Linked DNA regions of Homo sapiens: region 1 is linked to region 2. A link means that fine-mapping ties the variant in region 2 to the plasma level of a protein whose gene starts in the linked region. Region 2 holds a variant in brackets. A gene starts in the other region. All regions are shown on their forward strands.

Evidence for each region. A credible set is the group of variants that fine-mapping cannot tell apart. PIP is the chance, under the fine-mapping model, that this variant and not a neighbour inherited with it causes the effect. The UK Biobank Pharma Proteomics Project read protein levels with antibody pairs (Olink). The fine-mapping took linkage between variants from a reference panel, not from the people measured, so its PIPs are less certain.
Region 1: it holds the start of CHIT1, and the variant in region 2 is the best candidate, but not a certain one, in a credible set for the plasma level of the CHIT1 protein (UK Biobank, PIP 0.73).

The regions. Positions count from the first base shown.
Region 1 is chr1:203,226,448-203,241,701 of GRCh38, forward strand. It overlaps CHIT1 (chitinase 1), which reads right to left and starts at 3,226. Exons shown (of 11, transcript NM_003465.3): 1 at 3,165-3,226; 2 at 2,086-2,115. The coding sequence starts at 3,189.
Region 2 is chr10:62,616,705-62,631,958 of GRCh38, forward strand. LOC105378327 (a long non-coding RNA gene) reads right to left here. Exons shown (of 3, transcript XR_946002.3): 2 at 8,347-8,419; 3 at 7,500-7,911. Among named protein-coding and RNA genes, the nearest start is that of ADO, 180 kb to the right of the region's middle. The variant A/C (reference allele first, on the strand shown) is at 5,895.

The DNA of each region.
Region 1 (15,254 bases), not on the chromosome of region 2:
ACCTCAGAATACTTCGTTAAAATGCAAACAGATAAGTAGCAGAGAGGAGGCCCCAGTTACAGGCCTGGGTTTATGTTTCTTTAGTCTTGCATTAAAGCCATTTGCATTTGCTTGTTATCCCTTGTAGATAATCTACGTTTATCAATATCACTGCTGAGATTCTAATAGAGCTAATTTTATCTAGGAGAAGGCATCTTGTCTCTAAGTACCCCACACACTGTAGGGTACTTGTCTCTAGAGTACCCTACAGTGTGTGAAAAGACTTTGCAGGGGTGGGATGGTCTATTCCCAGTGAGGGCTCGGTGGTGATGACCCCCACTGAGGTCAGCCCTGTGCAGGGTTGACCAGGACACCAGGAAGCAAGAATGCTAGTCTTCATTCCAGCATCTGCCAAAAATAGACTTTGGGTCTATCTCATCTTCAATCCCGGCCCCATCTGATAATGACTGTGTGGTCTGTGGGGTCTCTTCCAGTCTCTCAATCTATGATGGTGTGGTTTGTATGAGCCAACATTTTATGCCAAGATCTTGATGGAGCAGTGAGTTTGGACTGGAGCGTGCCTGTGGCTGGTGTCTAGAACCTGGGACTTCCCTTTGCCCCAGCAGGGTCTGTCTGTACCCCCTCCAATGCCCACATGGACAGGGATGGGACGAGGAAGAGGAGGGGTGCAAAGTGTCTATAGGAGAGTTTTGGGAAGAGACCGCTCAGGCAGGCCTCAACTAGAACCCGAGAGCATGGAGGGCTGACCTTGGGCATACACGTGGCCCCGGAGTGGTCACTGTCTCTAACCAGAGGTCACCCAGGAGTGCAGCTTGCTAGTGGGGCTGGGGTGTAGCCTGCAATGATACAGGAGAATTGGTGAACTCCCCAAAGGAAAAGAAAGGAAGGAGGGGATGAAACCAGATAACTCATCCCCCAGGCCATGTAGGAAGGAGCCAGGAAGCTCTTTTTCTATCATGTCATGCTGTCGCATATCAAATATTGTTATGAATTTCTGTACTATGGAGAAAATAAAGTGCAGTGGTTAACAGCAGGGACTCTGGCATGTCAGTGTCTGGGTTGAAATCCCAACTTTGCAACTTACTCGCTGTGCGACTCAGCTTCCTCCTGTGTGAAACGGGGAGACCATTGGACCTTCCACAATGTGTGTCACAGGACCCCAGTGTGGGCTAAAGTTAATATATGTAAAACACTCGGAGGAACACTGCAAGGAAGAAGTTCTGTTCTAGGTGCTTCACATATATTAACCCTTAGTCCACACAAAGTCCTACTATTATTACTATACTGCAGAAAGCCCAGAAGTAGCCTGGACTAAAGCTTTTTGAGAAATCTTCCACCTCTCATCTTCCCCATGTTTGCTGTTTCTGTGCCCCCGGCTGTTCCATCCTATGAGGCTGAGAGGGAAATGTACCTCCAATGCTACAGCCCAGCGTGAGAGGCACAGTCGCAGGACAAGTTCTGAGAGGCCAGCATTCCCAGGCCACTGATGCCCAGGGAATGGGGTGGGACAAGACGGGGACCAGGAGTTCAAGTTGCTGAAGGTCCCCCAGGTCTCTTTTCCATTTGACACAACAAGGAGCTCCCTCCTGCCTCTCTCAAGCTCCACATCTGATCAGTTCAACAGACCAGAAGCAAGTGTGTTGTCCTCGCAGAGCTAAGGGGCTGGGGATGCTGAACCAGATGAGACTTAGGTTCCTTACCTGCAGCAACTTGGAGTCTGAGACTGGTGCAGAGAGACACCTAAGCCAATAATGAGAGGCAGTACTGTACTGTAAAACACACAGGTGCTGCAAGAGCACAGAGTGCAGAGGAGGGAGCCAGCAACCCCAGGAAAGGAAAGCCCTGAAAGAGGCTGATGCGCAAGCTGGCCCCACAGATGTGCAGGAGCTCAGCTAATGGATAAGGAGGCAAGAGCCTTCCTGGGAGGGCTGGTAGCAGATGGGGACATTTGCAGGGGTCTGAGCTTTGGAAGAGAGTCCCCACTGAAATCTGGAGCTCTTGGGGAGGTCTGGCAGGGAAGGTGTTTTGGGACATTAAGCAGAGCCCAGGGAAGGGGCTGAGGCAGCCAAGAAAGAGGCTACTTACCCCATGGGATCATCAGCAGGACCATGAAACCTGGAGCAACACAAGAGAGAAGGCCAGGGTTATGCTGCCATTCTCACCTTCCCAGGCCCCACAGCTTACGGAAGCACAGGAGGTGGTCAGGGAGGGCTGATTTCATACAAATCAAGCTTTCTCCTTTCAGAAGGGACCCAGGAGGGCACTGTGCCCATCCCTTCATGCAGACCAGACCACGGGGGTCTCTTCCTGGCCTGGGTTGGTCCTAGAAGCTGATGGAAAGTTCCATGGGCTGAGGCTGCCCCCTCTCTATACCTCAGTAAAGGGCAGTGTGGATTCAGGAAGATTGTGGAAAAACTGCTGACTTGTGAGTTATTTAGAGAGATAGTTTCTCTTTCGGAACAAGAAACAAGCCTGTTTTGGGGCTAGAAAGAATCAATCTGGAAGGGCTGCATGGAGAGAGTTCATCTCCTGGGGAGGGCCTGTGCCTCTGCTCCCATCGTTTATGGCTTCCTGTTGCCTTTCCGCTACCTGGCTGTGGTAGGCAACCACAGCCTTGGAGACCTAGGGTCTGACAGGACTCCTTCGAAGAGATCTCTTTCACCTGGTGACCTTGGACTTCTCTGTCAACCTAATAGAACCTCCATGAAAATTTGCAAGGATGCCCAGGATCTTGGCCCCAGGCTGCCCTCTTGCAGGACAGACAATATGAGGTTGGAGAAGAGGTTCTTGGCAGTGGGCGCTTCTTGGATAAGGCCAACAGGAGGGACCTAAGAACATGGGAAAGACACAAAGACCCAGTGCAGGGGCCTCATTGACTCTGGGCTTTCAGGACAGAGAGAGGAAAGTCAAGTCATCTTCAGCCTGTTGAGAAAAGCCTTCCCTTGCAACATGAAGTCTCTTGGGCTGAAAGAGCCTAAGGGGGAGCCCACAGGAAAGGTAATCAAGGGACTGCAAGCCAGGAGGCATGGAGAGGGATAAAATGACCCTCTGAAGTTCTCCTGAGTCCTCCTGCTTCCTTGCAAATGGTAGCAAGTGGTCCCTGAACATCCACATCCCCACCTCCCCACAGCTCCCGAGACCCAGCCCACTATCCGACGGCTCACCTGCCCAGGCCACAGACCGCACCATGATGCAGCTCAGCGGCAGGCTGCAGCCCATACAAACCAGCTTTCCAGGTCCTGCTCTGCTTTTATCTGGCCACCCTGTCCCACCCCAGCCAGGAGTGTTGCAATCAGGGGCACTGGGTGGGGGGGATGGGAGCAGGGTGGGGAGGGGTAAGATGTCAAGCAGCATGAATTGGGCAAACTTGACACAATGGCCTTTAGCAATTCTTGCTTTTCTGGAACAATCAGAGGGTGACTCTTAGTGTTGCCAAACAGAGGAAAGCGGGAAGTGGCCCTGAACCTCCTGATGGATGAGCATGACCCTGACTTTCTTTGTGTAGTTGGTGAGGACCATAAGCAGCCCCAGACTTAATAGGGCTTTGGAGGAAGAGAAATGACTCACGAGTCAGGCAGCTGGGTTCCAGACCAGCTCTCTTGCTTCTCCACTGCCCTCTCTCAAACTGTTTCTCCATCTAGAAGATAATGGGGTTGCAAATATAATTTACTTTTCATGATAGTAATAGTTGCATATCCATTGATGGAGAAAAATAGATAATGATAAATAGTGACTATAAGTTTGGTAATGGCTTGAAATGCCTATGTTTCTTATGAAGAATAATAATGGTGGACATTTGGGCCAGGCATGGTGGCTTACACATGTAATTCCAGCACTTTGAGAGGCCGAGGCAGGTAGATCACCTGAGATCAGGAGTTCGAGACCAGCCTAACCAACATGGAGAAACCCCATCTTTACTAAAAATACAAAATTAGCCTGGCATGGTGGCACATGCCTGTAATCCCAGTTACTCGGGAGGCTGAGGCAGGAGAATTGCTTGAACCCAGGAGGCGGAGGTTGTGGTGAGCCGAGATCGCGCCACTGCACTCCAGCCTGGGCAACAAGAGTGAAACTCCATCAAAAAAAAAAAAACAAAAAAAAAAAAACAGAAGAATGGTGGACATTTGTGTCGGTTTCCCAGAGCTTCTGTAACAAATGGCCACCAAACAGGTGATTTGAAACAACAGAAGTTTATTCTTTCACAGTTCTGGAGGTCAGAAGCCTGGAAACAAGGAGTTGGCAGGGCCATGCTTCCTCCGAAGGCTCCAGGGGCGAATACTTCCCAGCAGCTTCCAGCTTCGGATGGCCTGTGGCATTCCTGGGCATGCAACGGCATCGTTCCAGCCTCTGCCTGCCTCCATTTTTACACGCCCTTCCTCGCTGTGTCTCTGTATGTCCCCTCCTTTCTGTCTCTGAGAAGGACATTCTAATCCAAGATGATCTCATCTTGAGATCTTTACCTTCATTACATTTGCAAAGACCCCTATTACAAATACAGTCACCTTCTGAGATTCCAGGTGAAGTTATCCTTTGCGGGGGGTGGGAGGGGGTCACCATTCAATTCACCACAGGACCCAAGTGGGCACATATTACTGTAATGTCTGCAGACAATGTCTGGTGTATGCATGAACTCCAGGGTCCCTGAGAAAGCTCTGCAGTTTCTAGGGGATCCAGTCTTTGGCCGGTGGGCTTAACATGAATGGCCTAGATGGCCACGTGGGAATATTGGGTGCGGCAGGCTGTGGAGTTAGGTTCCTGAGTTTGAATTCCTCCTCTGCCATTTACTATCTGTGTAAACTGAAGTGAGTTCCTTAATTTCCCTGAACTCCAGTTTCTTCATCTGTAAAGGGGAATCCTCAGAGGACTGTTGGGAACGCACTCCATGGTGGCTGCTATTATTCCTGGTTCTGCCAAGTGCTGCCACTTCTGCTGGTCTAGGGGTGTCAGAGGGCTCTAGTAACCTCTTCGAGGCCCCTGAGAGTGTTGGACCTCAGCACTCAGATGGACCAGCCCTAAGTCCTCCCTTTCCCTGCTGCAGTCATGGCTTCTGTTTCTGCTGTGGTCAGCCCTTTCTCTTGGGGATCCTGCAAAAGAGCCTGTTCAGGGTCACCTGAGATGTGCAGAGGTGCCTCAGCTCCTTGGTGGTGGGGGAGTGAGAGTGGGATGCAGGAGTGAGGACTGGGAGGTCCTGAGCCTCGGGGAGGAGAGGCTTCTCTGGAGAGTTAGGGGCCACCTTATCTCGCCCCCGCCTCCATATACACAACTGACCTGTCAGTTTCATGAATTTCTCGCTATGCCTCATGTCCCCAGGAGGACATGCACTGCAGTGCCCAGAATCTGAGTTTCTCCAAACACTGCCCCATCCCCTATTGTCTTTAGGTTTTCTAGAAAAACAGATCAAAAATAATAACAGAGTTTGGTAATATGGCTGGATTTAAGGTGAATGTACAAAAATGAATAGCTTTTCTCTACATTAGCAATAACCAATTAGAAATAGAAGTGAAGGAAATGTCTGATTCACAGAAGTGTCAAAATCTATAAAATATTTATAAATAAATTTAATAACAATAATAAGTTTAATAGTAGAATCTATAAAACTTACCCACAGGATATAAATTTGCAATAGGATCTGAACATGTTCTTGCACGGGAAAACAATATCATAACAAATGTCAATTTTTGTCAACTAAAATACAAAACCAGTAATGATGGTGACACACTATACAAAACTTATTATAATTCCATTGGGATTAAAATAGCATGGAATTGCCACCAGGACAGACAAACAGAGGTAGGTCTGAGCATATATGGAGAGGGTGTGTGCAATGAAGGTAGCAGTTCAAATGAATAAGAAAAAGATGTTTTATAAATGCCAATGACTTAATTGTCTACCAATCTGGAAAGAATCAAAGTTAGGCCCCTCACACCATATACAGCAGAAATGACACGTGGTAAATGAAGGTGGGCACAGGGAGCAAAGGAGCTCAAGGAGAAACACCAGCCAGGGTGGGGTGGGAAAGCCAGTGGAGTGATGCTTGAACAGAGCTTTGAGAATAAGTAGGTTGCTGGACAAAGAGAGAAAGGGAAGGAAGTTATAACAAACACACCAGATGTTCACTGATGGAGCCTCTCAGTGAGGAAACTGCCCACGATACATGCAGGGACAGTGGGACATCATTAAAAACTCTGTGTCCTGTCGGTTGAGAACCACTGGTTGAGGTAGGCAGGTGGGGGTGATCTCTGCTGAGGGGCTCTGTGTAAAAGGGCACTGGACATGGCTGGAGGGAGAGGAGAGAGATACAATGCCTTGCCAGCCTGGATTTATTTTACAGTATGCCTCAGTCTAGTAGGGCACATCCTGGGCTCACCTGATGGCCAGACCTGAATTGCAAGATTTCAAGGAATAAGTCCCTGCCTGGAGGCTGAGACCTGGGAGCAGAAGGCAGGCCCATGTCCACCAAAGCTGGGGAGGAGCCTTCCCCAGGGACTGACCCAGAGTTCCCACCTAAGTAGGCAGGTCCCAGCCACCAGTACAGATTGCCCATGTGTAGAACTGAGAGGTCTCTGATGCCTTCAGCAAACTTCAATTAACAGCCCACCACACCTTTGCTCCTAAATTGTGTCCCTCCTGGGGCTGCCCTCCCTGGCCCTCAAGTCCTACAGAGATCACTCTGAGTTAAGCCTTGCCTCTTCCACAGTCAATGTACTCCATACTACCTTCTGCTATCTTGGAACAACTCCTTCCATCCAGAATAGGAAAGAACCCTGGCTTGGAGACAGACAGAACTGGGTGTATCTCAATGGATATCACCAATAAATTACTTTCATAGATTTTATACTCTCCTTTCCAGCCCCATTGGCTTCTCCCACCCCTTTCTCAGCCACTGCCAAAGCCCAAACCAAGTAAAACCAGTGTGCTTGATATAAAATGAGGCTTCAAAGCAAGTCCCCGTCCCACCCTACTGCAGAGCAGATGCCTGTATAGAAATTCTAAAGCTTCTGCTGATTTGCATCCAACCTGGCTGGCTGAGCTGGGGCTAGTCACAGCCTCTCCAAGCCTTGGTTTTCTCATCTGTAAAATGGGGATAATACTACCTATCTTATTTGGTAATGATGTGGATCGAATAGATAATGTGTGAGAGGGCTTTGTAGGTGGGAGGACGCCAGCCAGATCTCATGGGACTGCATCTTGATGGTTGGTATCACACCTTTTTCTCTTGCTTCATGTGAGCATCTCATCTCTGTAGCTGGACTGTCCATAGCCAGGCAGAGTGGGGCCTCTCTCCACACCTCTCTATGTGTCCCTCAGCACCAAGCATACAGGGGGTCTTCAATTAATGTTTGTTAACTGTTCCTTCCCACGTCCCACCGTGTTCTTCCCCTTAGCAGTAAAAGACATCACCACCTATCCGGGTCTCCAAGTCACCCAGGAAGTGTCCTTGATCCTTCCCTTTCCTCACCCTCAATGATCAGGACCTATTAGACATCCTGCCTCCTGCTCCATCTCCTCCACCTCCTAACCACCGTCAACTCCCACCCTGTCCCCAGAAGAGCCTCCTACCTGCCTTCCTTCCTAATTCTCTTGCCTCTGCAATCCATTCTCCACACAGCAGCCAGAGTACACTTTGAGAAACTTAAATCAGATCCTGTTGCTTTCCTGCTAAGACCTTGCAATGGTTCCCACTTAAAATAAAATATCAACTCCTTAACTCTACCTCTAGAACACTCTAACTCTATTCTTTCATTAGGACAATGTTCTTTCAAAGGACACCTTCTTGGCAGGGAAGATAATTTATCACTGGACATAACTAAATTAAAAAAACAAATTTTTGAAGCCTCTCAGGCTCACTTATCCATTGTGCCTGGAGCTGAGGCGTTAGATCAGGTGGCAGAAAATCTTTATGGACTAAACCCCACGACTTTGATTAAGTCTATTGGAGGCCCCACTCTAGTAAATTTTGGAATTATGTTTCTCTGTTTAACCAGCTTGTCTTTAGTGTGTCAGACAAGTCAAAGAATCCTGCATCAAAATCGAGAGAATGAACAAGCCTTCATCGCCATGGCACATTTATATAAAAAGAAAGGGAGAGATGTTGCGGGAAGTCAGGGACCCTGAACGGAGGGACCGGCTGAAGCCATGGCAGAAGAACATAAATTGTGAAAATTTCATGGACATTTATTAGTTCCTCAAATTAATACTTTTATAATTTCTTACGCCTGTCTTTACTGCAATCTCTGAACATAAATTGTGAAGATTTCATGGACATTTATCACTTCCCCAATCAATATTCTTGTGATTTCCTATGCCTGTCTTTACTTTAATCTCTTAATCCCGCCATCTTTGTAAACTGAGGATGTATGTTGCCTCAGGACTCCGTGAGGATTGCGTTAACTGCATAAATTGTTTAAACAATATGAAATCTGGGCACCTTGAAAAAAGAACAGGATAACAGCGATGTTCAGGGAACAAGGGAGATAACCATTAGGTCTGGCTGCCTGACAGCCAGGTGGGACAGAGCTATATTTCTCTTCTTTCAAAAGCAAATAGGAGAAATATCGCTGAATTCTTTTTCTCAGCAAGGAACATCCCTGAGAAAGAGAATGCATTCCTAGGGGGAGGTCTCTAAAATGGCCGCTCTGGGGACATCTGTCTTTTACTGTTGTAGATAAGGGATGAAATAAGCACCAGTCTCCCGTAGCACTCCCAGGCTTATTAGGATGAGGAAATTCCTGCTTAATAAATTTTGGTCAGACCGCTTGTCTGCTCTCAAACCCTGTCTCCTGATAAGATGTCATCAATGACAATGCATGCCCGAAACTTCATTAGCAATTTTAATTTCGCCCCGGTCCTGTGATCTCGCCCTGCCTCCATTTGCCTTGTAATATTTTATTACCTTGTGAAGCATGTGATCTTTGTGACCCACACCCTATTCATACACTCCCTCCCCTTTCGAAAATCACTAATAAAAACTTGCTGGTTTTGCAGCTTGGGGGGCATCATGGAACCTGCTGACATGTGATGTCTCCCCCGGACACCCAGCTTTAAAATTTCTCTCTTTTGTACTCTTTCCCTTTATTTCTCAGACCGACTGACACTTAGGAAAAATAGAAAAGGGCCCACGTTGAATATTCAGGGGCGGGTTCTCCTGATACCTTTGCACCTGCCATTGCCTCTGCCCACAATGTTCTTCTCTGTGATCTTCACACAGCTGGCTCCTTCTCCTCATTCATGCTTTTCCTGACCACTCATAGAAAGTAGTGCCCTCCCCTCAAGTCACTCTCTGTTCTCTCCTGATGATTTATTTTCTCCTAAGTACTTTCATGGCTGAATTCATTCATTCATTCATTCATTTGTGTGTAGTGTCTGTTTCCTACCACTAGAATGTAAGCTTCATGAGAGGAGGGACTTTTCTTGTTTAGTCCTCTTTGTCTAGTACCCAGAATATTTCCCAGCACATAGTAGGTGCTTAATCCATATCTATTGAATTAATTAATTAATTAATGTGACCTCTCTGCATGATCTGGCCCACTATGATATTGTGATATAAGAAATGTATATTTGGTCTTTGTCCCCAATTTCTGGCACGGAGCTCCTAAAACCCTTAAAATTTCTTGAGAAATAGGGGTTCTAGGTGCATCTCTTGTTCTAATGTTTAGCCTTTGACCCTAGTTTTGACACAGAACTCCTAAGCCCTTGGAACTTCCTGGGTACTAGGAGCATCTTTTGTTCCAAAGAGGTGCCTCTTTGTGGGCATCTGGAGGGGGGTTGGTCACCAGAAAGACCAAGCCATGATGAGAAGTTTGGAACCTTCAGCTCCACCCCCCATCCTCTGGGAAGGGGAGTGGGGCTGAAGACCACGTAATCATGCTTATGTGGGGAAGCCTGCATAAAAGTCCATTAACTAGGCTGGGTGCAGTGGCTTATGCCTGAAATCCCAGCACTTTGGGGTGCAGAGGCAGGAGGATTTCTTGAGTTCAGGAGTTTGAGACCAGCCTGAACAACCTTGACCTCCTGAACAACTAGGTCTCAACCTAGTGAGACCCCCTTTCTACAGACAAACAAACAAACAAACAAACAAACAAAATCCATGATCCATGGGGTTTAAAGAGCTTCAAGGCTACTGAACACATGGAGAGAGGAGAGCAGCTCCAAGCCCCTTCCCATCTTCCTCGCACTATGCATCTCTTCCATCTGGCTGCTCCTCTGTATCCTTTGTAATATCCTTTAAATCAATGGGTCAATGTAAGTAAGTGTTTTTGTGAGTTCTGTGAGCTGCTCTAGCAGAGGAAGAGCAGAGGAAGGGCGTCATGGGAACCCCAGTTTTTAGCTGCTTGATTGAAGCACAGCTCACCACCTGGGACTTGTGATTGGCCTCTGAAGTGGGGGCAGCCTTGTGGGACTGAGCCCTCAGCCTGTAGATCTGACTCACTCCAGATGGATAGTGTCAGAATGGAATTAAATTATAGGATACCCTGTTGGTGTCTGCTGGAGAGTTGTTTGGGTGTGGAGAGAAATCCCCACACCTCTGGTCTCAGAAATGAAGTATGGAGAGTGAGTGTGAGAATAGTAGAATACAGTCAGTTTGTGTGTTTTTCCATTAGGCCACCCGCCTACCTCTCAGCCTTGTGCTGGTCACGCCACCCTGAGCACCCCAGTTCTATTTCATGAACGTGAGTGTGTCAAGCCTTTTCCAATCTCAGGGTCTTGGCACAGCACCCTTTGCCTGGGATGTGTTCTCCTTCTCATTCTCATCCTCCAGGGCTGGTCTCTGCTGTCACCTCCTGAAGAGGCTTCCCTATATCTGCGTATTTCTCCATGGCAGGGCAGTTCTGCTACTCTCTCCTGAAAAGGTGTTTATTTTTCCTCCCCAGACCTTATCCTAATTTGCAATTACATATTTATTTTGTGAGCTTACGTATTTAATGTCTGTAACTCTCTCTAGACTGGAAGCCCCAAGAGCAGTGACCGTGTCTCTTTGTTCATTGCTGTGCACCAAAAACCAGGTGCCTGTATAAAGAACTGACCTCAATAGACATCTGTTGAATGAGTTGATTATTGAATACTATTCCTTCAACATCCCTTGTAACTCAACGTCAAGTGCTTAGTAAGAAGCTGGTTGATGTGAGAAGTGCATACCACCCCTTAAGACCTCTTAATGTATTAGCAGAAGCTATGCTCCCCATATTGCAGTGGAAGAAAGAGAAGCCAGGGAATTTGCAAGCCTTCCAGAGCTAAAGTGGAGGTTTCCAGGTTCTTCCCTTTCCATTTGGTTATCTTTGGACAGGCCTGGCTCCCAGGCAGAGGTGGAGCTAGTGGCTGCAGGCTGGTGTGGGCTTCAGTCATGGTGAAACTCATATCCTGGAGTCAGGGCACTCTCTGGGGACAGAAAGCACCTTGAATCCTCTCTGGCCACGTGGATTCTGGCCTTGCATGTCTAAACATCAGCCTGTTTCCTGTTTCCAGTGGACCATATCCCAGTGGTAGTTGTTTCTTTCACCATTAACAGGTTTGAGCCTGAAGCAGTTGGCATGTAGTGGGCAGTAGAACTAGAAGGGGAGAGTCAGGCCTAGGTCATGATATGGGCCAGGACTGGAAGTACAACCCATTCAGACCCCTACACCTCTCCCTGACCTGCTGTCTTCAGATACCTGACATTCTGCATGGACTCCTTCCCTCCTCCCCACCTCCTTCTCTCTGTCTCACCCCCTTTCTCTCTGTCCCTCTCTTTTTTCTCTCCTTTCTTTATTTCTACACATAATTATTGTTGTACAATAATAATGTCCCATTGCAGCATTTCTTAAAATAGCATAAACCTAAAACTGCCTTAAGTGTCACCAACTGGAGCCTGAAATTCCATACGTCATTAAAATGAAACAAAAATGTCCTCAATATATTGTTAAAGGAAAAAAGCAAGGTGTACCCATTTCGTGTGGCAGATTGAGCATAGGTATTTATCTCCACTCTCTCCTGAAATCCCTTGAAATCACAGTTAAAGGAATAAAATGGTATAAATCTACTAGGACAAAGCAAACAGAAGAGGAAATTAAAATAGATAAGAGATGCCAACAAATGTTTGGAAGGTGAAAACAGAATGAACAGGTGAAACTGTTTGTGACAACAGAATGAACAGGTGAAACAGGCTTCACAGACCTGAAAAAGCTGAAACCTTGGTCTTTCATGTGGGGCCTCTTTCCTCAAATGTCTGGTGATCAGGCTGCAGGTGGGGAAGCCCACAGGAAAAAAGAGAACTCAGGCCAAAGGACCCTGAAAATGTGCAGGAGTCAGCAGAAAGTTGCCAAGTGGGCTAAAGCTGACAACAGTAAGTGTGGGTGACCTGTTGGACCCCTGGATCTTCTTCATCCCCATTAAATATGGGGATGGTCCAGAGGGACTGAAGACTCAGTAATACCTGGCCCAGCAGAGGATGGTGTGGGGGCTGTAGTGGGTGGGGAGGGTGTTAGACTGAAGACTGAGAAGAAGGACTGAGGAATTAAATGAAAGTCTGTACATGGGATGCTCAGAACTTCCAGGCTTTCCCCCCGCTAGGCTCCCAGAGCCCCAGTAAGAGGACTGAAAAATTCCTCTCAAGGAAAAGCTGGCCAGCCTAAGAGAAAAGTTACCAAAACTCAGACTACCAAACTCAAATGACATTTGAGGGCCCCCAGCAGAACAGCCAGGTTCTTCTCCATCACCCGAAGGTGGGGACCTTGGATAAGAAGCCCACCAAGCCTCTAGAGCTTCCAGTGGGCTTCTGTTGACTCATATGGAACCAAAAGCCTGGTGACTAGACATTCGAGGAAAGAGTCCCCACAGGAAAGACCAAAATAAAAAAAGAAGGAACTCAGAGAAATCAGAGTGGGCAGCTCCCAGCGATTCTGACTTTCTAACCTCAAACGACTATATTCTGCCCATTAACAATGCATTACTTTCATTCTTAAAAATTACTTTATGATAATCAATGGGCATAAAATTTCAGTCAAGCAAGATGAATAAGCTCTAGAGATCTGCTGGACCACACTGTCCCTACAGTCAGCTATATTGCATTGTATACTTCAAAATTTAACAGGGTAAATCTCATGTTAAGTGTTTACCACAAGTAAATAAAAAATTTTAATATGCTGATTCATTGCACACTTTCTAGGTAACAGGTGCTTGCCAGGCACTGGGGACCCTGAGATGAATTCACAGTCCCTGTCCCAGTGGGGTTTATAGCCTGCAGCGTTAAGCATTGCTTTTGGCTGGAGTGATTTCTCAAAAGGCAAATCCCCTGAGCGGTGCAACCCTCTGAGTTATTTACACCTCAGCCTGTTTTCACCAGGAGGAAGAATTTTTGGTCTCCACCATGGGCCCTGCAGTTTTTCTTATCTTCCCCCACATTTTTTGAAGCTGAGACTCCTCATCACTCAAGGTTTTAAACATGCCAAGGCAGGGGGCTTTAGCTTGGGGCCTTGGGCCAGGGCCTGCTGGTCCCTGTGAGGTGGGTTCTACCTGGCCTCTGGGGACCCAGGCAGGGAGGACAGGTCTAAGAAAAGACCCTTGTGGGGGCATCTTGGCCCTAGGTTTTCTCAACCCCCACTCAAGGACTGTGCCCAGGGTTCTATTTCTGGGCTTCCACCCACTCCCTGCCTGCTGACTAAATGACTCTAAGTAATCTGTTTCCTCTCCCATGGGTTCCCCAAGATCATCATGGGATGTACTATCACAGGGTCTGAACTGGGCTGGGCGGGGCTGGGCCTGACGGGACACGCTACACATTGTGTCCTTGTGTACTTGTGTACTTGTTTACTCTAACATCTAGGTATTTGAGGGTTCTTCTTTTAAAAATTAGCATTGTCAAAGCTTTGTCTGTTTCATTCATCTTTTAAAGGAAAAAGATCATATATTTACTAAAGGATTCTATAACTTTTAATAAACTGGCAGAAATACTTAAATGGTGACAGTGATGAATTGCTTGAGAGTTAAAAACTCCTGGGTGCCCAGTCTGAAAGAGAGACACACAGTTTTGTGGATTTTACCTCTAGAAGTCCACCAAGTTCTCATGTTGAAGACTGGAAAAAAATATCCTCATGTTACCTGCAAGAGGGAGGGGGAAAGTAATATCTTAAAATATTCCCAGAGCATCTTGTATAACAAAGGCTTGCCCTCCAAGGGAAATTACTTTACCGGAGCCTTATCTTACCTGGGGAAAAATCCACTAGCCCTGTAGCCATCCTGTATCATGTAAGGATAGAAAACACAAAGGTTAAGAAATTATTTTGTAATGCTAAATGACGAGTTAATGGGTGCAGCACACCAGCATGGCACATGTATACATATGTAACTAACCTGCACATTGTGCACATGTACCCTAAAACTTAAAGTATAATTAAAAAAAAAAAGAAAGAAAGAAATGCAGGCAATCTAAAAAAAAAAAAAAAAAGCAATTATTTTGAAAGTCATGGCCCAGGGACTCAGGTCCAGTAAAATACTGAGATTTAATCATAAGATTATAGAACTCTCGACTGGGCGTGGTGGCTCACGCCTGTAATCCCAGCACTTTGGGAGGCCGAGGTGGGTGGATCACGAGGTGAGGAGTTCAAGACCAGCCTGGCCAACATGTTGAAAACCCTGTCTCTACTAAAAATACAAAAATTAACTGGGCATGGTGGTGCACGCCTGTAATCCCAGCTACTCAGGAGGCTGAGGCAGGAGAATCACTTGAACCTGGGAGGCAGAGGTTGCAGTGAGCAGAGATGGTGCTGTTGCCCTCCAGCCTGGGCAACAGAGCGAGACTCCGTCTCAAAAAAAAAAAAAATTATAGAACTCTTGCCCTCTCCAACAACTTACCACTACATCAACAAGGCTCCAGCATAATAACTGTATACAAATTCAGAAAGCTGCAAAACACAGATCTTATTTTTTAAAGAAATACTAAACAATGTAGAACCAGTTTATAGAAAATTAAGTTGGAAGTGTCATTTCTCAGCCTTATCTTCCGTTACCTCCCTGTATCATCTGCACTGTTAGCCACTCTTGTCTCAGCAGAAGGTCTTCCCTTGTCTTTCATGACTTCATATTCTCACCCTGGCTGTTTCTCCTCAGATATCACTTTAGGCTGCGTTTCTTTTTACAGTCTCTTTTTTTTTTCTTCAACTTTTATTTTAAGCTCAGGGGTACATGTGTAGGATGTGCAGGTTTGTTACATACTGTAAACGTGTGCCATGGTGGTTTGCTGCACAGATAATCCCATCACCTAGGTATTAAGCCCAATATCC
Region 2 (15,254 bases):
GCCAGGGTGATCTCGAACTCCTGACCTCAAGTGATCTGCCCACTGCGGCCTCCCAAAGTGCTGGGATTACAGGCATGAGCCACCACGCCCGGCTAGCCTCCAGTATTTTCTTGTACTACTTCTCATATGCAGTTCCACCACTCCTTGCTTTGCTCGTTCTGATTTCCTGGCTCCCCCATAATATCCTCTTCCCCCTTGGCCACTCAGCCCTGCTCTGCCATGCCCATCTAGGCCATACTGTTCTAAAGACCGCATCTGTGAGAGGCCCTGAGGTAGCATGCTTTGTAAAACCCTTGTAGGAATTACCCCCAGCTGAGCTGCTCTCTATCCACCCATCTCCTTACAGGAGAAGAGCAATTAGATGTCGAAAATGCCAGAAGGATTGATTGACAATGACAGAACCCACATGTTGGAGTGAGAATTATCTAGATTTGTCTGCTGATTCACACACACACACACACACACACACACACACATCATTTGGCAATGTGTATGTATTAGATAAACCTTGATTTCCTCCATGAGAATGGAAGCTCCAAAAGCTGTGATTGTTATCTGTTTTGTTCACCAGAAGAGGATCCTGGCACAAAGTAGGCCCCAAGTATGTGCTGAGTGAATTAATCTTTGCAGGGCATGAGGAAGCCCCTCTTAGCAAGAGAGCTGCTGGGACTGAGATGCACTTTGATAAGCCTGCCACTGGGGTGGAAGGGAGCCTCCTGGGCTGGGTGCCAGCAGGTGCCCCAGTTCCAGAAGGTAGTAGGAAACCACTCTTCAGATAAGAGAAGGAGGATTTGGGTGTCACAGGAAGAAAACATCCAGGAGAGAGGAAGAAAGGAGAAGGTGAGAATTGGGCTGAGGTCTGTTTGGGGAAGAATCACAGGAAAAGAAGGCCTCACTGAAGGCCCTCAGAAAAGGGCTTGGGAGGAGAAGAAGTGTGTTCAACACACTTTACCCGGTTTCAAGTATTGTATGATAAGAACTTCCTCACCCAGCTTCCCTGCAGGACTATCAATAACCAGCCCCCCCACCCCCACCCCCGCCCCGCCCTGCAACACACATAGTATTTCTTAATACTTTAGTGCAGACAGAGTTTGAATTGGTGGAGAGCAGAGAAGAGCTTAGAGAGGAGGGCAGTGACAGCTGACAGCTTGTGGGTTCTGATACAAACTCATAGGTGCTCCTCTGTGGCCTGCCAGTGACCACCAGGCAGTGTTATGAACAGACGTTGCCACGGCCCAGCGTGGCTGTCCTTGCAGACTCTTTCCTGTATCCCACAGTGCTATTCCCGGTGCTGTTGGACTCGCACGGATGTTGTCCTTGTTTTAGGATCCTCCTTCCTATTTGAAGTCATTAGACTCAGTCTCTGCTAATGTGTTTGCTCTTAGGTGCCATGTGCTTATCAGTAGGATTTGAGGCTTAAATGATTTTTCAAATATGTTCCAAAACACACTGGCTGCTAGTCTATTATTTAACCCAGAAATGACTTCTCTGTCTAAGATGAACGCCCCATGGCTTCTTGCTAACTGTACTGCCTGCACCCTGCAATGATTGGAAAGCTAGAGCTTCTCCTTTTGGCAGATGGAGTCACTTCCTGATTGGGGTCCATTTGGAACTGAGATCCTCATCTTATAGCACCATAACTCTTCCTGCTTGAAGCCCTGAAATGTCTGTTTTTGCAGCAAAGTCGCACGAGAGTTTTCTTAACCATTCTAGTCCCAGTAACAAGGACGGCCTTCGGAACCTGCTTCAAACAATACCCGAAGATCCACCAGTGTGCCCTGGGGGCATTTCTGTGTGCCCTGGGACAGAACACCACGTGGTAAATGAATGGACTAGTTCAAGTTATAAACTTAAGTTTGATTCAAAGAGAAGCAAATCTTAAATTAATAGGCAATCTGAACTAGAAGTTCAATTATTCTCATCCCCCCCAATACACACATACATGAGCAGCACTGCTTTCATTCGTTCCTGTGAGCCTGGGGCATCATTGTCTGAGATGCTGTTGTGTACGTTTCCCAGACTGTGAGTCTCCGGATCTAGACTCCAAGCTGGCGGTGCCTGGGGGCCACATGGAGCCTTTTCAGAACCCATGCTCCAGACTCTTCTGCATGATATAATCCTGCAGTAAGGAGAGCAAAACCCCAGGGAAGCCACTCAGCTTTCCCAGTGTGGCTAAGTAAAATTCCATGCTGAAAAAATGGGGTGTCACCCACAGACAGACAACAGATGAGACCTCTGAGTGTATCCTTCCTGTGTTCAAACTTGTAAAAGCTTTTTTTTTCTTCCTTCTGGGAGTTATTTAAATGCATTTATTTTCCAAGTAGGCAGGGTCCAGCTGCCTCTTTTATTAGGCTAGACTATTGCATTGTCAGGGCAAAGGGTGAGCTTTTGCCTTGCAGAGTCTTAGTCATGTGCTGGCAGCTGGTGGAGATGCTTTGCACGCATGGGGAGTCCAGAGCATCAACTCAGGGTGAATTCAGGAAGTGCATTAATCTTCATTCCGGAGCTCCTGGAGTTTCCTGGACTTGCAGCCTCTGCAAAGCCCAAGGTGCACTGTCCATTCCCGTTGGTGGCCTTCAGTTGAAGTTCATCTAACCCCAGTGAGTTGTGTGTGTAAGGGACATTTTCAAAACCCACCTAAGCTCACTTAACTGCTAAGGAAACCTGGCCACTCCTTAGGCTGGTTTCTGAAGGGGGCTCCCTTCTTCTGCCTGAAGATATCAATCAGACCACCCTTTCTCTCCTACTGGAAAACATCTCATAGTTTTGGGTGCCTAGGTCTATTTTTTTTCCTCCCTCCCCTTAATTTAGGCCCCATTTCCCATTTCTGAGAACTTGAAAACCACGGTTCACTGTAACAACGCCAAATCATTACAAGACAACCACAGTCTTGGGTAGCCAGTTCTTCTAAAGTACTCAGGAACTCTTGAATAATGATAATATATTACATAATACTAATATGCATTGAACACATATCATGCATCAGGTATGAATATGTTATTTGATTTATCTCATTTAATTCTCACAAGTCACATAAGTTTAGTTGTTGCCTGATACTAAGAAAAGTTAAGTAGCTTGTTCACAGTCACATGGCTAGTAACTGATGGAGTTGGGGCTCTGACATCTGAATTCTCTGATTTTAGCTCCTAAGCCCTTGCTCCCATTTCTGGGAGATGGGCTGCTTCCACTACAGAATCTCTTTTACAGTTAAGGCAACTCAAGACAAATGACCTGCCTAATAGATGAGGTCAAAACTAGAGCCCAAGGCAGTGGTTCTCAACCATAGTTACTCATTAAAATCAGCTGGAGAGTTAAGAACAAAACAAAAACAATGCTGTGGCTGCATCCTTAACAATTCTGATTTAATTGATCTGGGGAGAAGTCCCATCATTCGTATTTTTAGAAAGCTTCTCAGGGGATTCTAACCTGTAGCCTGGTTTGAGAATCTCTGACACATTACCAACTCCCAGACTAAAGCTTAACCAACCAAAATGCTCCACTTCATCCCATGTTCCAGCCAGTTCAGCTGGGACATGCCCAGAGGCAGGCAGTTAGGTTGCCCTACCATGCCCCATTGAGAGCTGAGAAAGTCTGCCCACCTGTAAAATAGGGAGAATGAGATCTCACAGGACCACTGGTTACATATTGGGATGTACAATGCTTATCTTAACACAGAGTAAGTGCTCAGCAAATGGTAGTCATGGTGAAAACAGTTGTCATTGTTGTAGGGGCAGAAGTTTTCTGTACCTCATTCAGATCTCACAGCCCAAGGGCAGAACTTCATCAGCCATGGGCGCTTGGATCAAGTGCCATTACTGTGATCAAACACCAAGTCATTCAAGTCAGTCCTGGACACACACAAACATGCACATGCACTAGCATCTTCACACCTGTGTATGCATCCAGGAAGTAGCCCCTTCAGCAACATTCTGTGTGAAAAGCCATGATGACAAATGAATGAGGTATATCCTAGGGTTATCAGTGAAAATCATCATAGTTTGCACTGTCAGCCTGAGTGTGCAGAGGTCCACAGCAGGACTGCCCCACACAGGAAGAAGACACAGAGAGGAATCTCTTACTACTTGCTTGCCTAATCATTTCCACTTAACACACAGTGAAAGCAGAACTTCGTGACATGCTTGCCCTGTCTGGGCAAAGGTTCTGCTTTTTTAGGAAGATCTTGGAAAAAGAAAAAAAAAAACAAATAACAAAAAGTCCCCCAAAACTTGGCCATGAGTGGGGAAGAGCTTCTCAATCTTTCATTTATTCCACTAGCATCTGTAGTCAGTTTCTTCATCCTCGTGCCATGTATCCACGTGCCTGGCACTGTGCTGGGGACTGAGACCTGCGTACAAGTTATGTACTTGTGAGACTTATGTGACTTGTGAGAATTAAATGAGATAAATCAAATAACATATTCATACCTGATGCATGATATGTGTTCAATGCATATTAGTATTATGTAATATATTATTATTACTCAAGAGTTCCTGAGTACTTTAGAGATGTCACTGCCCTGGGGCAAAAACAGAGGTCAATAACCTCGGGGATAAAATAGAGGTATACAGGCAACCCAGTACTAGCAGTTAAGACCCTTTTTCTGGGACACATGAAAAGGTTCCCCATTCTGTCCGTCAGCACCCTGTTCCAGGAACCTCACGGTAATGTTGATATTCAGCCAGTATGCACCAGTATAGCCATAATGGTTATCAAGCTAACAAAATGCTTCTAAGTAGGTTGGTAAATTGCCATGCTCTGACCACGCCACATTACTACCCCAAAAATGCCACACCTAAAGGGTTAACCTGTGACGCACAGGGGGTCTCCAGGACAATGCTTTGATACCACTCCAGCTTTCTGATTGGTCAGTGCCTGTGCTAAGGGGGTTGCTAAGTATTCTGAACCTTACTCCTGCCTCTTGGTAAGGGGCAGCTCTAGAGTTCCTCTAGAGGTCTTGGGGCTGTAATTAATTTTCAAGGTAGAGACGGGAGACTGCATACGTACAGCCAGTTCATGGGGTCACTTAGATTGTCTATTTGTTATAGCTTAGGGGAACTGATGGCTATTTTAGGGAGCTAAAATCATTACCTCCACAAACCACTTCTTGGCAATGCTTCCACTTTAAATAGGAAAATTTAAGATGCCTATATTTCCCAGAAGACTCCCTCGTGAAGAAAAAAATACCCCAGTATCTGGAAATACAAACAAATGCATTAAGGTAACACTTGCCATTCAGAGTTACATTGTGTGTGAACTATTTTCCTCATTGGGAAACTTACCAGGAATGCATTCATTGACGAAATACGACACAGCCCCTATAGGTTGCACGTCAGAAAGTAGTTCTGATGATTGCCCCAAAAGGTAGGATGTTGAACCAGGAAGAACCCTGGACAGCTAGCATTGCCTATGGGGGTGCCCAAGGAATGACTATCTGGTGAAGAGCAGGCTCTTCCCCTGCTCTGTCCTGCATCATCCACTCCAACTGTGTCTCCAGGCTTCCTGCTAGATTTGACCAATGGGAGGAACTGGGAGGTGATGGGAGGATGGAAGTAAAGGAACAGCCAGGGTATTTCTCCTCCTTCCTCCCTGCCTCAGGCAGCAGGCCAGGCATCAGTCCATAACTTCTGTGGGACCAGCTCCCACAGGAGATACCAGTGGGCTTCCAGAATCCAGAGAGCGGCCCCTAAACTCCCACCATCCTGCTTCTCCTTTTCCCTTCCAGCCAGGAGTCCTGTGGCTTTCTGCTGTTGTTAATGTTGGGTTGCTTCCCTGGCCCCTGTTGGCTTTTCTGCATCCCCATGAGCTGTGCATCCAGTTCCCTGCATTAAATCCCCTCTGTTTTAAACACTCAGCATGGTTTCCATTTTCCCAGTCAGACACTGACTATCCACTAG[A/C]TAACTCTGTGCTGTTTAGATGCTCCCCCCTCCCTAGGCCTCAATTTTTTGGTCTGTAAATGAGACTGGAGGAAGTACCTACCAGGCTATATTTCAGCATCATGGTATCAGGGGTGTGGGGACCTGCCTACGCAGAGACATGGAAGTCAACCTCTGAGGAGAAAAATGACCTTCCCACTTCAGGATGCTCCTGTAGGCAAGGGCCTCCTTTTGTTTATCCCAAAGTCGTTTTCATTTTGAACTGCAGCCTCAAATCCTTTTTTTGGGGGGGGGGGATAGGCAGGGTATAGGTAATAAAGAATAGTTTTTAATAATGCTATTTTAAAAGCAATAGATTCCTTGTTTCTTTCTTACCCATTTCATAATTTGGCATTTCCTTATCTTTTCCTTAGCTATGTGCTATAGGTTCAAATGGTTTTCTCTAAATAATCTGGCATTTGGTGATGAAGAATATTTGTGGTTGTATTACCTAGTTATTTTTGCTATTTATTTATTTGTTTTTAGATTTTTGGCCATATAAACCACCATCTTTCGGGGTTGAAAGATTCTCATTGTCTAGTTTTTCTGCAAGCCCCACCTGTGCCCTGGATCATTTTAGCCAGCTTTCTCTGGATTCTCGGAAATCCCTGGACGTCTTCCACGGCTACTGCAGGTGAATACTCGAGTGATGTGCATGGTCATGCGGCTTAAGTAAAGAGCTGTTTTGTTGGTTTCCTATTTTTCTTCTCCAATCACTATTTTGTACACAGCCCCTTATCTCCCCACCTGATCTCATTTTCCAGGCAGAGGTTCCACAGGGCTATAATCTGGCATGGAAGAGTCCCTATGGTCCTCGCTGGGCCCCTCTTGTACAATCCTGGTGGCAAGGCCCATGGGCTTCCTCAGCTGCCTCCTGAGCTTATGGGGAGACAAGACCTAAGCAACTAGAGAGCTGGAAACACGTGTTGTTCATAGCTAGATCCCTATCAGGAGCGATTCAGCAGGCAGTGATGGATCAGCTTCCTAGAACTGGACTCTGAGAGAAAGAACAGAGATGGCAGCAAATGTGGCCTCATAGAAGCCCCACAGCAGTGGAACAGGGGCAGATTTTAGAGTTAGATGTTGTTCCAACCACTGGTTCCACTGTATGCTCACTGTGCAAGCTCCTGTCATAATACTGATCGACAATATTGATTAAGCTCCAACTATGTGATATGTACTATGCAAAGTTTTCCTGGATGCATTTTCTTATTTAATTCATAAAGCCACATGGATTTACCAATGAGGAAACAGGCTGAGAGCAGTTAAGCAACTTGACCAATACTATGTAACTAGAAAGTGGTCTGCTTTTACAGTCTATGCTACTTTGAGAGCTAACTAAATTTTCCAGTCGTCAGTGACCTTGTCTTTCATATCACAATATTTGTGCCTATCTTATAGTATTATTTCTCCCTTCCCCCCTCTCTCCTTTCCATTTAACATTTGCTGAGCTTCCATTTTATCTATGCACCCAGTTACATCTGGGTAACAATAGGATTCATTAGTCAATGTTATATATATATATAATGTTATAATGACTATATATATAGTCAATGTTATATATATATACACACACACACATATATATTTTCAAATAATTCAATAAGTATGCAAAATTTACTTATGGAATGGAAGGTATTTTAGCAATCTGTCTTAGGTGGTACATGAGCCTGGATTCAAATGAGTCCTCAAAATGCACATAAAGAATTCATAACTGGCCAGGCATAGTGGCTCACGCCTATAATCCCAGCACTTTGGGTGGCCAAGCAGGAAAATCACTTGAGGTCAGGAGTTTGAGACCAGCCTGGTCAACATAGCAAAACTTTGTCTCTACAAAATAAATACAAATATTAGCCAGGTTGGTGACACATGCCTGTAGTCCCAAGTACTAGAGAAGTTAAGGCAGGAAAAATCACTTGAACCCAGGAGTTCGAGGCTGCAGTGAGCCATGATCACACCACTGCACTCCAGGCTGGTCAACACAGTAAGACAAGGCTCTCTAAAAAGAAACATAAAAATAAAATAAAATAAATAAAAAATAATTTATAACACTGTAAAACCATGGAGGCATATTGCCCCCATTTGCCCATGTGGAGCATGGAAGCAGCCAGCCACAGAAAAGGGTCCCAGCATGAGCCGAGAGCAACTCTCAGGGCACAAGAGGAGCCACATCTCTTCTGTCTTTTTCTACCCAAAGCTCTGATGGAGAACTATCTCAGAGCAGGCCCCAAGGCAGTGGGCTGGCACCTGGAAGTTATTTGGAGGCGGGGAGCCAGGCAAGATAGCAAGACAGCAGCAGTCCCATTCCATTTGAGAATTTAATACTCAAGGTTCCAACAACTCAGGAGCATGCTGAAGGATGTTTGAGCAAGCGTGGGGTGGGAAGATGCAGAGTGCAGGTAGCCGTATTTGCAAAGCCACATATTAGACTCACTTTCTCTTGAAGACAGGACTATCTCAGCATGAATGAGGTCTTCTCAGCTCCTGGTTGCCTATGAAGAGGAGCCCTGTAGAGATGTCAAGCCAAACTTAGCTTCTTTACGGGGAAAAAGCCATTGACGGTAAAAATGGGGGTACCTGAATGAGAGAACTTGAAACAGCAGTTTACATGGTGTGAATGGATACCTGGGCACTGGAAATGAGTCCGATAGTGACAGGGATGAAAGCAAGGGACCAGTACAAACATTCCTGAACTCGGCGCCCTGGGTTTCGCTGCCTTTCCAGTGCTCTTCCCACTGCTCTGAGGGAGAATGAGGGAATACCCGGGGGCTTTCAGGATGGCTGTGTCCCTGCTGGAGATTGTACATCTGGATCTACGGTCACCTTCCTCCAGAGCCCCAGGTCAGAGGAAAGCTTATTAAATATTAACAGTTCTTCTCCCCTGATCTCTGGAGGTACAGGGCCTCAAAGAAAAAGAACAATCACAGCTTTAGAAACACAACCAATTATATACTAATCTGTGGTCATTTTACATTCAATTTACAGTGTACGCTATTACCGTTGGCTTCCTTGTGCATTGTGTTGACATTATCTGTGACTTTGTTTGCTTTACACACAGCTCACAGCAGACAGGAATTGGAGGGAGAAGCCTTTTTAAAAAAATAAAATAAAACTTTAATGGGCCTCCAGAGCCAGTGGAAGCCAGGGAAAGACAGCATTTCAGGCATGCCATAATAATGTTTAGACTACTATTTTCTACCAGTCTGCAAAGTAAAGCTATCTTTCCCCAAGAGAGAATGGGGAGCCATGGAGAGTGGAGAGGAGACAAACTGAGAGAGAACAGAACAGAGAGAAAATGCAGAGAAGCGTTATTTAGGGAAATAGCCCTAGAAGAGCAAATGTGCTTGTGTTCAAATGAATGCCACCAAATGCCCCCTTCTCTAGGGAGACTTCCTGGATTCTCTGGGGTCACTGATCCCTTCTTTAAAGACCTATACCCCCCTCTATATGTCTGCAGTGTCTATTGCATTAAAATTTATCAGTTTCAACGTCTGTTTTTGCCTTTATATTCTGAATTTCCTAAGAATAGAAAAATGTATCTTCCCTATGTTAGTATTGCCAGTGCCTACCACTATTCCTGATACAAAGTAGGGCTTGTGCATTGATTGATGAGTGTGCTATTATTGTATGTAGAACCCTCTGTGAGTGAATAACCCTGAGCCAGTTCTGTAACCTGTTCATGTGCAGCGAGATGGGACAGCTGTCCTAGGGAAGTGAACAATCTCACCCAGTTTGACTTTTATTTTCTCTGAAGTTCTTATCTTTGTGATTTTAACTCCTATATTAACATATGTTAAAACTGTCCTACATCAGATTTACATTTTAAGGATCAGCGAAAAGGTATTAGCAAGTGTGCTCAAAGCATGGGGATTGTTTGCATCCTAATACTGAGTGAAGCACAGAAGCAGACCACCACGTTGCATCTGGAGGAGCATCATGTGTGCACACTCACACCTGCTAAAAACTCCCAAAATGAAAATGGTTGATGAGTTAGGATGGTGAGATTGCAATTGTAGTTTCTTTTCGCAGAAAAATTGCCTTTTTATGCTGTGTTTATTTAAAGATAAATGAATAAATATACAAACAAATATGAAATAGATACATTGGGAGGGAGGGGAAAAAAAACTGTGCTTCCATGTCCAAATTTGTTACCAAAAGAGCAAGTGGTGCTTTTTTATAGTTGCACAGAAAAGAACAGATTCTTTAGAACAGCACAGCACCAGGGTATGAGAATACTGAAGAGGAAAAGTATGAAATCTGTGCTATCCCTCCCTTTGGAGTTGTAAACTGGAGTTTGTTCTTGCCCTTTTAGCAAGTCGACTGTACCCTGGCCAACTCAGTATCAGGGAAAGGGCAAGAATTTTTTTAAATCCATTTCTGGTTGATGACATGCCCCTTAGTCACAGTCACCCCATCCCCCTCTCTCTCTTTCTCTCTCTCTCCCCCTCCCCCAACCCAGAAACAGCAAAATATGCTGTGTCCTGCATGGCCCCTGGGAACCTAGGCAGGGCAACAGTTTCATATAGGTTAGCCTGGTTCAGGGTGTGAATCTCGTTGAAGATCAAATGAACTCCATGAAACTCCTGTGGTTGCTAAGAGACATGATATCTTTAAATGTCAATTACCATTCCCCTCAAAATAGCTCAAAAATCATCCAGTGTTTGAGCTTTAAAAGTCCCATGATATGCCAGATTTAAAAGACATGGACTAAAATCCTGTCTTCATGATATGCTGGTTTTAAAAAGACATGAATTAAAATCCTGACTCGATCATTTTCCAGATGGGTGACCTTCGCTAAATTACCTCTCTCTGAGCCTCATTCTTCCTTCTCTGTTAAAAGGGAGTGGTGATAGGGAGCAATTTTTAAACTGCAAAACACTCTAACTGTATGAGTTTGAACTACTTAATTCACATCTGATATGAGAACATATGTGAGAGAGATTGAAAAAAGACATCAAAATATGAATTATTATCATAGGGTTCCCACCTCCTTTGCATGTATATTAAATTTACTATGTGTGAGGCAGATACTGAAATCTATGGGAGGTGAACAAGAGGTGATCTGACATCTTAGGATAATACTTAGGTTTTAAAAAGAAATTTGGGAATTATTTCTCAGTAATTCTTCACTTTACAAAATAATTAACCATGGTTTATTATTATTGTGTATCATTACACTTAATATTATTAAAGGCCCAGCTATCCCAGTTTGTTTTAAATGGGATTTAATTCACAAAACATTGTTTTGAGTCTAATTTGTAAAGGCACAGTTATTGTAGCAACCAGGTAGTTAAGTTTTCCAGTGTACACTGGTGAACAAGGCTTTGAAGTCCACATGAGAGAAAATTGCAATGAATCTCTCTATGGCCTGTACATGGGTGGCTCTACAGTGTAAACGCTGACACTGACAGTGGGGCCCAATCGTGTGCATGTAACTCTATGCGCTGGGCAAATGGATGAATCATTTCATTTGATCCTTTCCTCACTGCGCTTTCCCTGGATTGGTCCTCTAGGCTGTGTCTCTCACATATGCATTAGGGACCCTCTGAGGGCCTCCTGGCCTCTGCTCCTGGGGCCTCTGTCTTGGTTCCAGTGGGGTGCAGTAATGACACACTCTTTTGAATTCATACTTGAGTGAATCCTTGTAGTATTCCTCCTGCTCTTCCTGTCTGTGCTGTCCTTACTTCAAATAACTAAACAGCAGCTGCTTGGACTTTGGGATTAGACAACCACAGCTCAGATCCTGTCAGTGACTAATTATTCATCCAGGGATGCTGGACAAGGTTACTTCAACTCTCTGAGGCTTGATTGTCCTTATCATTAAGGGGGTATAATAGTATCTATTACATAATTTTTTATATTAAAAAGTTAGACCATTTAACATGGTGCCTAAGAGGTAGCAAGTTCTTGGTAAGTTATAAGCACTATTGCTTCTGCTGCTGCTGCTATTATTATTATTACTATGTACGGGATCAGCTTAAAAGAACCATGGATTAAGTAAATACCAGTCTGGTCCTGGTGCATGACTGTACTATAGGGCTTCGTGGCTAGAGGTTTTACATATGTCCACATACACATATATACAATGCTTTCAAGGGCACACGGAAATCATCTATACTTACATAGCAAACCTAAAGCTGGCCGGGCGCAGTGGCTCATGCCTGTAATACCAGCACTTTGGGAGGCCGAGGTGGGTGGATCACCTGCAGTCAGGAGTTCAAGACCAGCCTGACCAATATGGTGAAAACCCTTCTGTACTAAAATTACAAAAATTAGCCAGGCATGGTGGCGCACACCTGCAATCCCAGCTACTCAGGAGGCTGAGGCAGGAGAACCACTTGAACCCAGGAGGCAGAGGTTGCAGTGAGCCGAGATCGCGCCACTGCACTACTCCTGGGCAACAGAGCGAGACTCTGTTAAAAAAACAAAAAACATTCTAACTGGTGTGAGATGGTATCTCATTGTGGTTTTGATTTGCATTTCTCTGATGGCCAGTGATGGTGAGCATTTTTTCATGTGTTTTTTGGCTGCATAAATGTCTTCTTTTGAGAAGTGTCTGCTCATGTCCTTCGCCCACTTTTTGATGGGGTTGTTTGTTTTTTTCCTGTAAATTTGTTTGAGTTCATTGTAGATTCTGGATATTAGCCCTTTGTCAGATGAGTAGGTTGCGAAAATTTTCTCCCATTTTGTAGGTTGCCTGTTCACTCTGATGGTAGTTTCTTTTGCTGTGCAGAAGCTCTTTAGTTTAATTAGATCTTATTTGTCAATTTTGGCTTTTGTTGCCATTGCTTTTGGTGTTTTAGACATGAAGTCCTTGCCCATGCCTATGTCCTGAATCGTAATGCCTAGGTTTTCTTTTGGGTTTTTATGGTTTTAGGTCTAACATGTAAGTCTTTAATCCATCTTGAATTAATTTTTGTATAAGGTGTCAGGAAGGGATCCAGTTTCAGCTTTCTACATATGGCTAGCCAGTTTTCCCAGCACCATTTATTAAATAGGGAATCTTTTCCCCATTGCTTGTTTTTCTCAGGTTTGTCAAAGATCAGATAGTTGTAGATATGCAGCGTTATTTCTGAGGGCTCTGTTCTGTTCCATTGATCTATATCTCTGTTTTGGTACCAGTACCATGCTCTTTTGGTTACCGTAGCCTTGTAGTATAGTTTGAAGTCAGGTAGTGTGATGCCTCCAGCTTTGTTCTTTTGGCTTAGGATTGACTTGGCGTTGTGGGCTCTTTTCTGGTTCCATATGAACTTTAAAGTAGTTTTTTCCAATTCTGTGAAGAAAGTCATTGGTAGCTTGATGGGGATGGCATTGAATCTATAAATTACCTTGGGCAGTATGGCCATTTTCACGATATTGATTCTTCCTACCCATGAGTATGGAATGTTCTTCCATTTCTTTGTATCCTCTTTTATTTCATTGAGCAGTGGTTTGTAGTTCTCCTTGAAGAGGTCCTTCACATCCCTTGTAAGCTGGATTCCTAGGTATTTTATTCTCTTTGAAGCAATTGTGAATGGGAGTTCACTCATGATTTGGCTGTTTGTCTGTTATTGGTGTATAAGAATGCTTGTGATTTTTGTACATTGATTTTGTATCCTGAGAAAATGTGGCACATATACACCATGGAATATTATGCAGCCATAAAAAATGATGAGTTTATATCCTTTGTAGGGACATGGATGAAATTGGAAATCATCATTCTCAGTAAACTATCGCAAGGACAAAAAACCAAACACTGCATGTTCTCACTCATAGGTGGGAATTGAACAATGAGAACACATGGACACAGGAAGAGGAACATCACACTCTGGGGACTGTTGTGGGGTCGGGGGAGGGGGGAGGGATAGCATTAGGAGATATACCTAATGCTAAATGACAAGTTAATGGGTGCAACACACCAGCATTGCACATGTATACATATGTAACTAACCTGCACATTGTTCACAGGTACCCTAAAACTTAAAGTATTAAAAAAAAAAATCTACCAAAACAAGAAAAAATAAAATAAAATAAAATAAAAAAACAAAAAACCCTAAAGCTGTGCAATTAAATATTAATTTTTTTGACTTTGGAATGTCCTTTGTAATTTTTTTGTTTGTGGTAAATTTACCTTCAAACTTCACTTGGATTAATATGAAAGCAAAATGAGATGTGTATTTCCTAAATATGTATCAACAAAGCAAGAGAAAGAAAGTGGCTCCCAAGTAATTGAGAGACAAAGTGAAAAATGAAGTTGCATGTAATTTACATGCTTAGACTCAGTCCATATACGGATAATCAAAGGCAGCGAGGAGGAGAAGGAATATTGAGGAACCGCTAGTAATGCTTAAAAAAAAAACAAACAGGCCGGGCGCGGTGGCTCACGCCTGTAATCCCAGCACTTTGGGAGGCTGAGGCGGACGGATCACGAGGTCAGGAGATCGAGACCATCCTGGCTAACACAGTGAAACCCCGTCTCTACTAAAAAACACAAAAAATTAGCCGGGCGTGGTGGCGGGCGCCTGTAGTCCCAGCTACGCGGGAGGCTGAGGCAGGAGAATGGCGTGAACTCGGGAGGCGGAGCTTGCAGTGAGCCGAGATCGCGCCACTGCACTCCAGCCTGGGCGACAGAGCGAGACTCCGTCTCAAAAAAAAAAAAAAAAAAAAAGAATTTGAGTGAGAGATCAGGAGTTTTCCTGTGGTTGTAGAGAGAACCAAGAATGTTTGCCTGGAGAAGAGAAGACTTGGAAAGCCATGGTATCATTCTTCTAAAGTTTGAAGAGCCCTTGTGTAGAAGAGGAAGTTGACTCTCTTTTTTTCTCAAGGGATAAACAGGACCAATACATGAAAGCGAGAGAGAGAACAAGTTGGGCTCAACAGGAGGAAGGTCTTCTTAATTACTTGAGTGGCTCCCAAAATGGAATGGACTGACTGCTGGGTCCCTAGTTCTTGAAGGGTTCCAGCAGGAGCTGGGAGCCCATGTAAATACAATGGTATTGGGGGCAGGGAGAAATTGTTTGCAGTGCCTCTCTGATTCTCTTTAAGATTTAAACATTTTTTTACCAAGCTATAGAATTTCTATCCTTATTTTCCCTGAACATTAAAATAGACATAATGTCATTTACCACTCCCATCACATGGACTACTCCTTATTAAAATATTAAAGAAATGAAATTTGCACCTATGCTATATAGATAGATGGATAGATAGATAGAACCTTTGAATATTGAAGTTAAAGAAATATGGAGCAAACCTATTTGTTCTCAACTTTCTGAAATAACTTTAACATCAACTATGTAGGAGAAAAATCTCTAAATATATCTTTCAACTCTTTACCTTTTTTTTAAAATAATATGGACCCTC